Linked DNA regions of Homo sapiens. The protein of the gene in region 1 purifies or fractionates together with the protein of each later gene. This does not show direct contact. Each region holds a gene or a part of one and is shown in the gene's direction. Other genes may lie near its edges.

Evidence for each region. The genes of interacting proteins can lie anywhere in the genome.
Region 2: the proteins of OCIAD1 (region 1) and XPO4 purify together in Homo sapiens (co-immunoprecipitation; 2 studies listed by BioGRID and IntAct, with this or other methods). This does not show direct contact.

What each region holds. Positions count from the first base shown.
Region 1 is NC_000004.12:48,833,916-48,837,768, forward strand, and holds part of OCIAD1 (OCIA domain-containing protein 1), read left to right. Parts: intron 1-3,853. UniProt on the Homo sapiens protein: Maintains stem cell potency. Increases STAT3 phosphorylation and controls ERK phosphorylation. May act as a scaffold, increasing STAT3 recruitment onto endosomes. Involved in integrin-mediated cancer cell adhesion and colony formation in ovarian cancer.
Region 2 is NC_000013.11:20,794,747-20,798,246, reverse strand, and holds part of XPO4 (exportin-4), read left to right. Parts: intron 1-1,189; coding exon 1,190-1,483; intron 1,484-1,990; coding exon 1,991-2,171; intron 2,172-3,500. UniProt on the Homo sapiens protein: Mediates the nuclear export of proteins (cargos), such as EIF5A, SMAD3 and isoform M2 of PKM (PKM2). In the nucleus binds cooperatively to its cargo and to the GTPase Ran in its active GTP-bound form.

The sequences.
Region 1 (3,853 bases):
TAACCATTATATAATAGCAGATTAGTTCCCATTTTATCATTGTGAAATGTTGTTATACTACCAGCTCTTGATTTCTGATTAAAGAAATATATATATATTTGTGTATATATATATATCAAGATTGTATTTTTTAAATACAGAGATTGTTGGAAGCAGTATACAAAATATACTCTCACTATTTAACAAAGAATTGGTATTGCTTTACTTGGAAACTGTAGTCCTTTCAGGTAAAAAGGAGGATGAATTTTTTTTTGTTTTTGTTTTTGTTTTTTTGAGATGGAGCTTCGCTCTTGTTGCCCAGGCTGGAGTACAATGGTGTGATCTCAGCTCACTGCAACTTCTGCCTCCTGGGTTCAAGCGATTCTCCTGCCTCAGCCTCCTGAGTAGCTGGGATTACAGGCATGTGCAACCATGCCCAGCAAATTTTTCTATTTCTAGTAGAAGCGGGATTTCACCATGTTGGCCAGGCTGGTCTTGAACTCCTGACCTTAGGTGATCTGCCTTGGCCTCCCAAAGTGCTGGGATTATAGGCGTGAGCCACCATGCCTGGCAAATTTTTTTTTAAAAAAGGCAACTTGGCACGGTGCCTCATGGCTATAATTGCAGCACTTTGGGAGGCTGAGGCAGGAGGATTGCTTGAGCCCAGAAGTTCAAGACCAGCGTGGGCAACATAGAGGGGCCTTGTCTCTACCAAAAATGAAAGAAATTAGCTGGGTGTGGTGATACGTAGCTGTAATCGCAACCATTTGGGAGGCTGAGGCTGAGGTAGGAGGATCCCTTGAGCTGGGTACATAGAGGCTGCTGCAGTGAGCTATGATCACATCACTGCATTCCAGCCTGGGTGACAGAGCCAGACCCTGTCTCAAAGAAAAGAAAAAAAGGGCAACTTAAGCCATTAAGGAGGATGTATGTTTTCATCAGTCAGCCTGATATGTATGCTTAAAATGTGCAAGGTACCTGTTGGGAAGATAAGTTTTATGAAAGACAGACTTTGTCCTGAATTAATTTTCTTTTTTGTTTGTTTGTTTTTGTTTTTGAGACGGAGTCTCACTCTCTTCCCCAGGCTGGAGTGCAGTGGTGTGATCTCTGCTCACGTCAACATCCTTCTCCTGGGTTCAAGTGATTCTCCTGCCACAGTGTCCTGAGTATCTGGGACTACAGGCGTGCGCCACCATGCCCGGCTAATTTTTGTATTTTCAGTAGAGACTGGGTTTCACTATGTTGGCCAGGCTGATCTCGAACTCCTGACCTCAGTTGATTCACCTGCCTTGGCCTCCGAAAGTGCTGGGATTACAGGTGTGAGCCACTGCGCCTGGCCCTGAAGTAGTTTTATATGTGGTGAGACAAAGCTAATACATGAAACACTTAGAGATTAAGTGTGTAACTGCAGAAGACTTTTTAAAGAGATAAATTAATTAGAATTGACTTACTGAAATTGAAAAATTTGAATAACTTTTGAGATTTTAAAACTCAAAATTTTCTCAAAATTTTACCAAATTTCAATTTGGTAAAAACTGAAGCCTCTTACAATTTTACAGTTGTGTTTTTCTGTAACATAAGGTGGAATACCTGAGTTGGAAAAAGACCTTTATTTGTTAAGCAAACAATACTTTAACAACTTTATAATAGTACTGTAGGCCAGGTATGGTGGCTCACACCTGTAATCCCAGCACCTTGGTTTTGTTTTGTTTTTTATTTTTGTAGATACTAGGTTTTGCCATGTTGCCCAGGCTAATCTTGAACCCCTGAGTTCAAGCGATCTGCCTGCCTTGGCCTCCCCAAATGGTGGAATTTCAAGCATGAGCCACTGAACCTGGCCCCAGCACATTGGGTGGTTGAGGCAGGAGGATCGCCTGAGACCAGGAGTTTGAGACCAGCCTTGGCAACATAGTGAGACCCTGTCCCTAATCCCCCAACAACAACAACAAAAGAATTAATAGTTAATAAGTAGATAAGTGAAGAGGAAAGGTGGAGTAGCATTTGGAAGAAAGGAGTAGTGAACAAAGGCAGAGTTTGCAATAACTTCATCTCTGCTGGAGCGGTGAGCCTGAATTGATTGGAACAGAGGTCTTTCATTGAGGATAGAACGTAAAACATAGTAATGAGTTAAAGGTTTGATCCATTATATCGTTTAGGTTCTTGAGCAGAGGGGGGTGATATGTAAGGTTTTTTTTAAGGAAGGTTAGTTAACAGTGTGCAAGATGGGTAGAAGGGTGAGAAGTTGTACTTGGTAAAATCTGTTTTGAGCTTTTGGCAGTAACTTAGGCATATATATGTAGTCAACGATGAGATATAGTTGATTAGTGTGTCATTTGGACTGGAAAAGATGAGCTGGCAACGAAAGACTTTTTAAAGGACAAATAAAAGGATTTTTTAAAAAGTTCGACTAAGGGGGAATGAAGGAATGGTAAGAGGGAGGTAATAGCTTTAAGATAACCAGCTTAGGAGACTCAATGATACCTCTGAATAAAAGGTTCATTTAGAAGGAGTTCTTGTTTGAAGATGAGTTTAGTTCAGACGTTTTGAGTTCATGGTGCAACATTCGATTGTCGAAGATTTCTAAGCAACTACAGATAGAAACAAAAGCATACATGAAAAATTAGTTTATTGTGGAGTTGTGTTGGTGAATTCGCCAATAAATTAAGTGTAGAGATAAAAGCATAAAACTGATAATAGTTTCTGCCCTGTGATTAATACTTAGGATTGATAGAATAAAGGATAAAGTTTGGATAGTACCCATGGATAAGGGAACAAGTGATAGTGAAAGAATCAACAAAGACCAAGAGCAGTTAGGAAGATAGAGGAGCTCTGATAGAATCTTTGTCATTTTATCCACCAATATTCAGAGACTTGCAGGTATTTCAAGCTAGAAAGAACCTGAATAAGAATTAGGTGATGATGTCCATTTTAAATTTATGATGACTATGCATCTAAAACAGTTATTCTCAACTGGGAGCAGAATAACTGGAACGAGTTGAGAATAATTGTTATAGATGCATAGTCATCATAAAGTAAGGGCTTCTATAAAATTTTCATGGCTCATTAGAATGGGAATAATTTCTTTCTTTTTTTTTGAGACGGAGTCTCGCTCTATCCCCCAGGCTGGAGTACGGTGGTGCAATCTTGGCTCACTGCAAGCTCCGCCTCCTGGGTTCATACCATTCTCCTGCCTCAGCCTCCCGAGTAGCTGGGATTACAGGCGCCTGCCACCATACCTGGCTATTTTTTTTTGTATTTTTACTAGAGATGGGGTTTCACCGTGTTAACCAGGATGGTCTCCATCTCCTGACCTTGTGATCCACCTGCCTCGGCCTCCCAAAGTGCTGGGATTACAGACGTAAGCCATCGTTTTTTTTTTTTTGTTTTTTTTTCTTTTTTCGGTGTTCTTTTTTTTGTGACTGGGTTTCACTCTTGTTGCCCAGGCTGGAATGCAATGGCACAGTCTTGGCTCACTGCAACCCCTGCCTCCTGGGTTCAAGCAATTCTCCTGCCTCAGCTTCCCAAGTAGCTGGGCTTATAGGCGCCTGCCACCATGCTCAGCTAATTTTTGTATTTTTGGTAGAGAAGGAGTTTCACCATGTTGGCCAGGCTGGTCTCGAGCTCCTGACCTTGTGATCTGCCCACCTCGGCCTCACAAAGTTCTGGGATTACAAGCATGAGCCACTGTGCCTGGCCAGAATGGGAAGAATTTCTTAGAGAACTTGGCTGTATACTCCAGCAACAGTTCTTTTTTTTTTTTTTTTTTTTAAATCTTTGAAGATTATATAGAGTAGATAGGATAAAATGATCTATTTTTAAGTCTTGATGACACAGGATTAAGAAAAAGGCAAGTGTGATAGAGGGGATTTGGGAT
Region 2 (3,500 bases), on another chromosome or scaffold:
TTCCCCTTTCTATATCAGTTATATTGAACTAGGGGCCCACCCTATTCCGGTATGACCTCATCTGAACTAATTACATCTATGACAACCCTATTTTCTTTTTTTTTGAGACGGAGTCTTGCTCTGTCACTCAGGCTGGAGTGCAGTGGTGTGATCTTGGCTCACTGCAACCTCCACCTCCTGGGTCAAGCGACTCTCCTGTCTCAGCCTCCTAAGTAGGTGGGATTACAGGTGCGCACCACCATGCCTGGCTAATTTTTGTATTTTTAGTAGAGACGGGGTTTTGCCATGTTGGCCAGGCTGGTCTCCTGACCTCAAGTGATCCGCCCACCTCAGCCTTCCAAAACGTTGGGATTACAGGTGTGAGCCACTGCATCCGGCCAACTCTATTATCAAATAAGTTCATATCCTGGGGTTTGGATTTCCACATATGAGTTTTTGAGGAACACAGTTTGACCCATAACAACAACCATGGGCACATTATTTAATAGGCTTTAAATCAAGGGCCAAGAGTTGCCAGTGTGTGTAGGTTGCCAGCCTGCAGTCCTTGTCTAGAGGGCCCTTAGTGTTTGAGAAGGGGCACAGTAATGGAATTAGGCAGTTGTTTGTGACTTCAAATCCAGGGGAAACCAGACTGACTAAGTATTTTTATTTTAAACAATTGTATTATCATATGGACAACTTAAAGTCGAATTAAGATACTGTCCTCTTGAATATGAGTACTCTTATATACAGGGCAGGACTGATTATCTGAAGTTACGTTCTGTGCCAAGAGGAATTAGGTAAAGGAAAAAGGAAAAAAACAGACAAGAACTTTGAATTGGGCTTCACTCTGTAGAGGTCGGCAAGCTGCAGCCCATGGGCCAAATGTGGCTTACTGTCTGATTTTGTAAACAAAGTTTTTTTTCCTTTTTGACTCATTACTTGGAAAGAGATGGAGGGAAATGGCAGAATTCTTTGAATGGCAGGGAGACAGTTATGTCCCATGCTTTGGGTGTTCTGGCTTTACATGAGCGGAAAGTTAGGATGACCCTCAAAATGGGGAGTGTAAAGTCTGGTTTAGATATTCTTTGTTATGTGCTTGTCCTGCCTCCAACAATTAGAAATGTTTTGGAAAGTGAATATGTATCCAAGCAGAGGAAATAAAGCATGAGAACTGAGCTTTAAGAAAATTCCTGGTTTATTTTTATAGGTTCTTCAGCCACTTCAGCAGCGATTCTTAAGAGTGATAAACCAAGAAAACTTCCAGCAGATGTGTCAGCAAGAGGAAGTCAAGCAGGAAATCACTGCCACACTAGAGGCCCTGTGTGGCATTGCTGAGGCTACCCAGATTGACAACGTAGCAATCCTGTTTAATTTTTTAATGGACTTCCTTACCAATTGCATTGGATTGATGGAAGTTTACAAGAATACCCCAGAGACTGTCAATCTCATTATAGAAGTTTTTGTTGAAGTTGCACATAAACAGATATGCTATCTTGGAGAGGTAAGCACTTTCTAATTTTATCCCCTCAGGATTAAAACTCTTTGAAGCTGTAATAAAATAATAGATCTTTGCTTAAAATTTGATTAGTATTATCTTAAATAATATTTTTATTCCTTCAAAAGATTTTTAAAAAAGATTTTTGAAAAGAACTTATAATTTAGAGAAAGTCATGTTGAATGAATGTAAATTTTTTTTTTAATTTCTTCTAAAAGGAAACAGGATACATATACAGAACGTTCAGATTTGTTACATAGGTATATGTATGCCATGGTGGTTTGCTGCACCTGAATATAAATTCTTGTCCTAAAATTTTGTTAGAAAAGGGGTAAAATTAAAAAAAATATACTCTTAATATATGCTTTCTAGAAATTATTGTTTTAATGTAGTTTAAAGCAAGAATTATTGCTACTGTTGGAATTCGGAGTTAATTTATATAGATTATATTTTAAAATTTTTTTAATGTCAGTGTACCAAGTAGCATAATTTGTGCATTTTTTTTTTTTTCAGTCCAAAGCTATGAACTTATATGAAGCCTGCCTTACTTTGTTGCAAGTGTATTCTAAGAATAATTTAGGGCGGCAAAGAATAGATGTTACAGCAGAAGAAGAGCAATACCAAGACCTGCTTCTCATTATGGAACTTCTTACTAACCTGCTGTCAAAAGAATTCATAGATTTCAGTGATACAGGTAAAATGTAACGTGATGGTTTTTAAACTTTGTTGTTATCCTCCTTTTTATTAAATCAAAGGATTGTTTTCTGTAAGAGACATCTCATGAGGAAATTCAATTTATGGAATAAATGAAAGAAGATCTTTGTGGTCAAAGTGAGGGTGAGGACCAGTGGCCCTCCTGCTTGCCTTTCCTCTTGTAAGAATAATAGAAATAGTATCTCTCATTCATTGAGATCTTACTAAATGCCATGCACTGTTCTTACCTCTCACAATGGTATGAAGTCAATCCCATTGTTATTCTCACTTTATAGATGAGGAAACAGAAGCACAGAGAGCTTAAGTCACTTGGCCACAGATACTTAGCCAGGACTGGGATTCAAATCCCAGCCTGTGACTCCAGATGCCAGTCTCTTCAGAGTTACACTTCCTGACTAATCACTTCTCCATGTTCCTCACGGTGGCCACCCCAGAAACCCTAGCACTTTCCAGAGTGTGGCTTGGAAAGCCCTGTTGGTGTAGGAAGCACTCTCTCTGGAGTTAACAGCCCACACTTTGAAGACCTAGCCTAGTGTCTCACCTACAGTATGATGTGAGGGGAGTTGATTAGCCTACCTGTGTCTTTACTAGCTGGTCAAATGGGTATGATAATAAATACCTTTCAGTGTGTTTGAAGGATCAGCTGTAAAGTGTCTTTGGTGCCTAGCATTGTGTCTGACAATCAGTAGGTAAAAGATAGTTGCTGTTACAGGCAAGAACCTGATCAGTAATTTAAACCTCATATATGTGTATAGTTTTCAGTGCTGTAGAGTTCACTCCCCTCCTATCTCACTGCCAACCTTGACTTCAAACAAAATGGATCCTGTTTCATGACAGAAAAATGAATCATATCTAGCCTCTCCTATTATATGTTGTGCAGACACGTGTGGTAGTGGACATTTTTGGCTTCTTCCTTGTAAGATTCTCTTTCTAAGTTGGGTGCTATAATATCCACTTGACTTATTTATCCCAATCCTTGAGATTGTTCTGTTTCCTTAATTTTTTCGTATTCCTTATTCACTGGACCATGTCTTTTTTTTTTTTTTTTAAATTCTTGGGCAACGGTTTTTCCAATATCTGCCCTGAGCTAGGTACCATCAACTTCACAGTGTAGAAGGTTTACTCTTTATTTTTTTTGCAGTTAACTAGGGGTACCAAGGTGAGATAGTCTGAAAAGCACTGTACAAATTCACTTTTCCTCAGTGAATTCTTTCTGGTCTGTTTTTAGGCCCAGCCTTTCACCCAAGTTTTCTAACTTTCTTCAGGTCAGTTCTGCTTAATCCAGGAGTTCTTAACTTTTTCTTTCTTT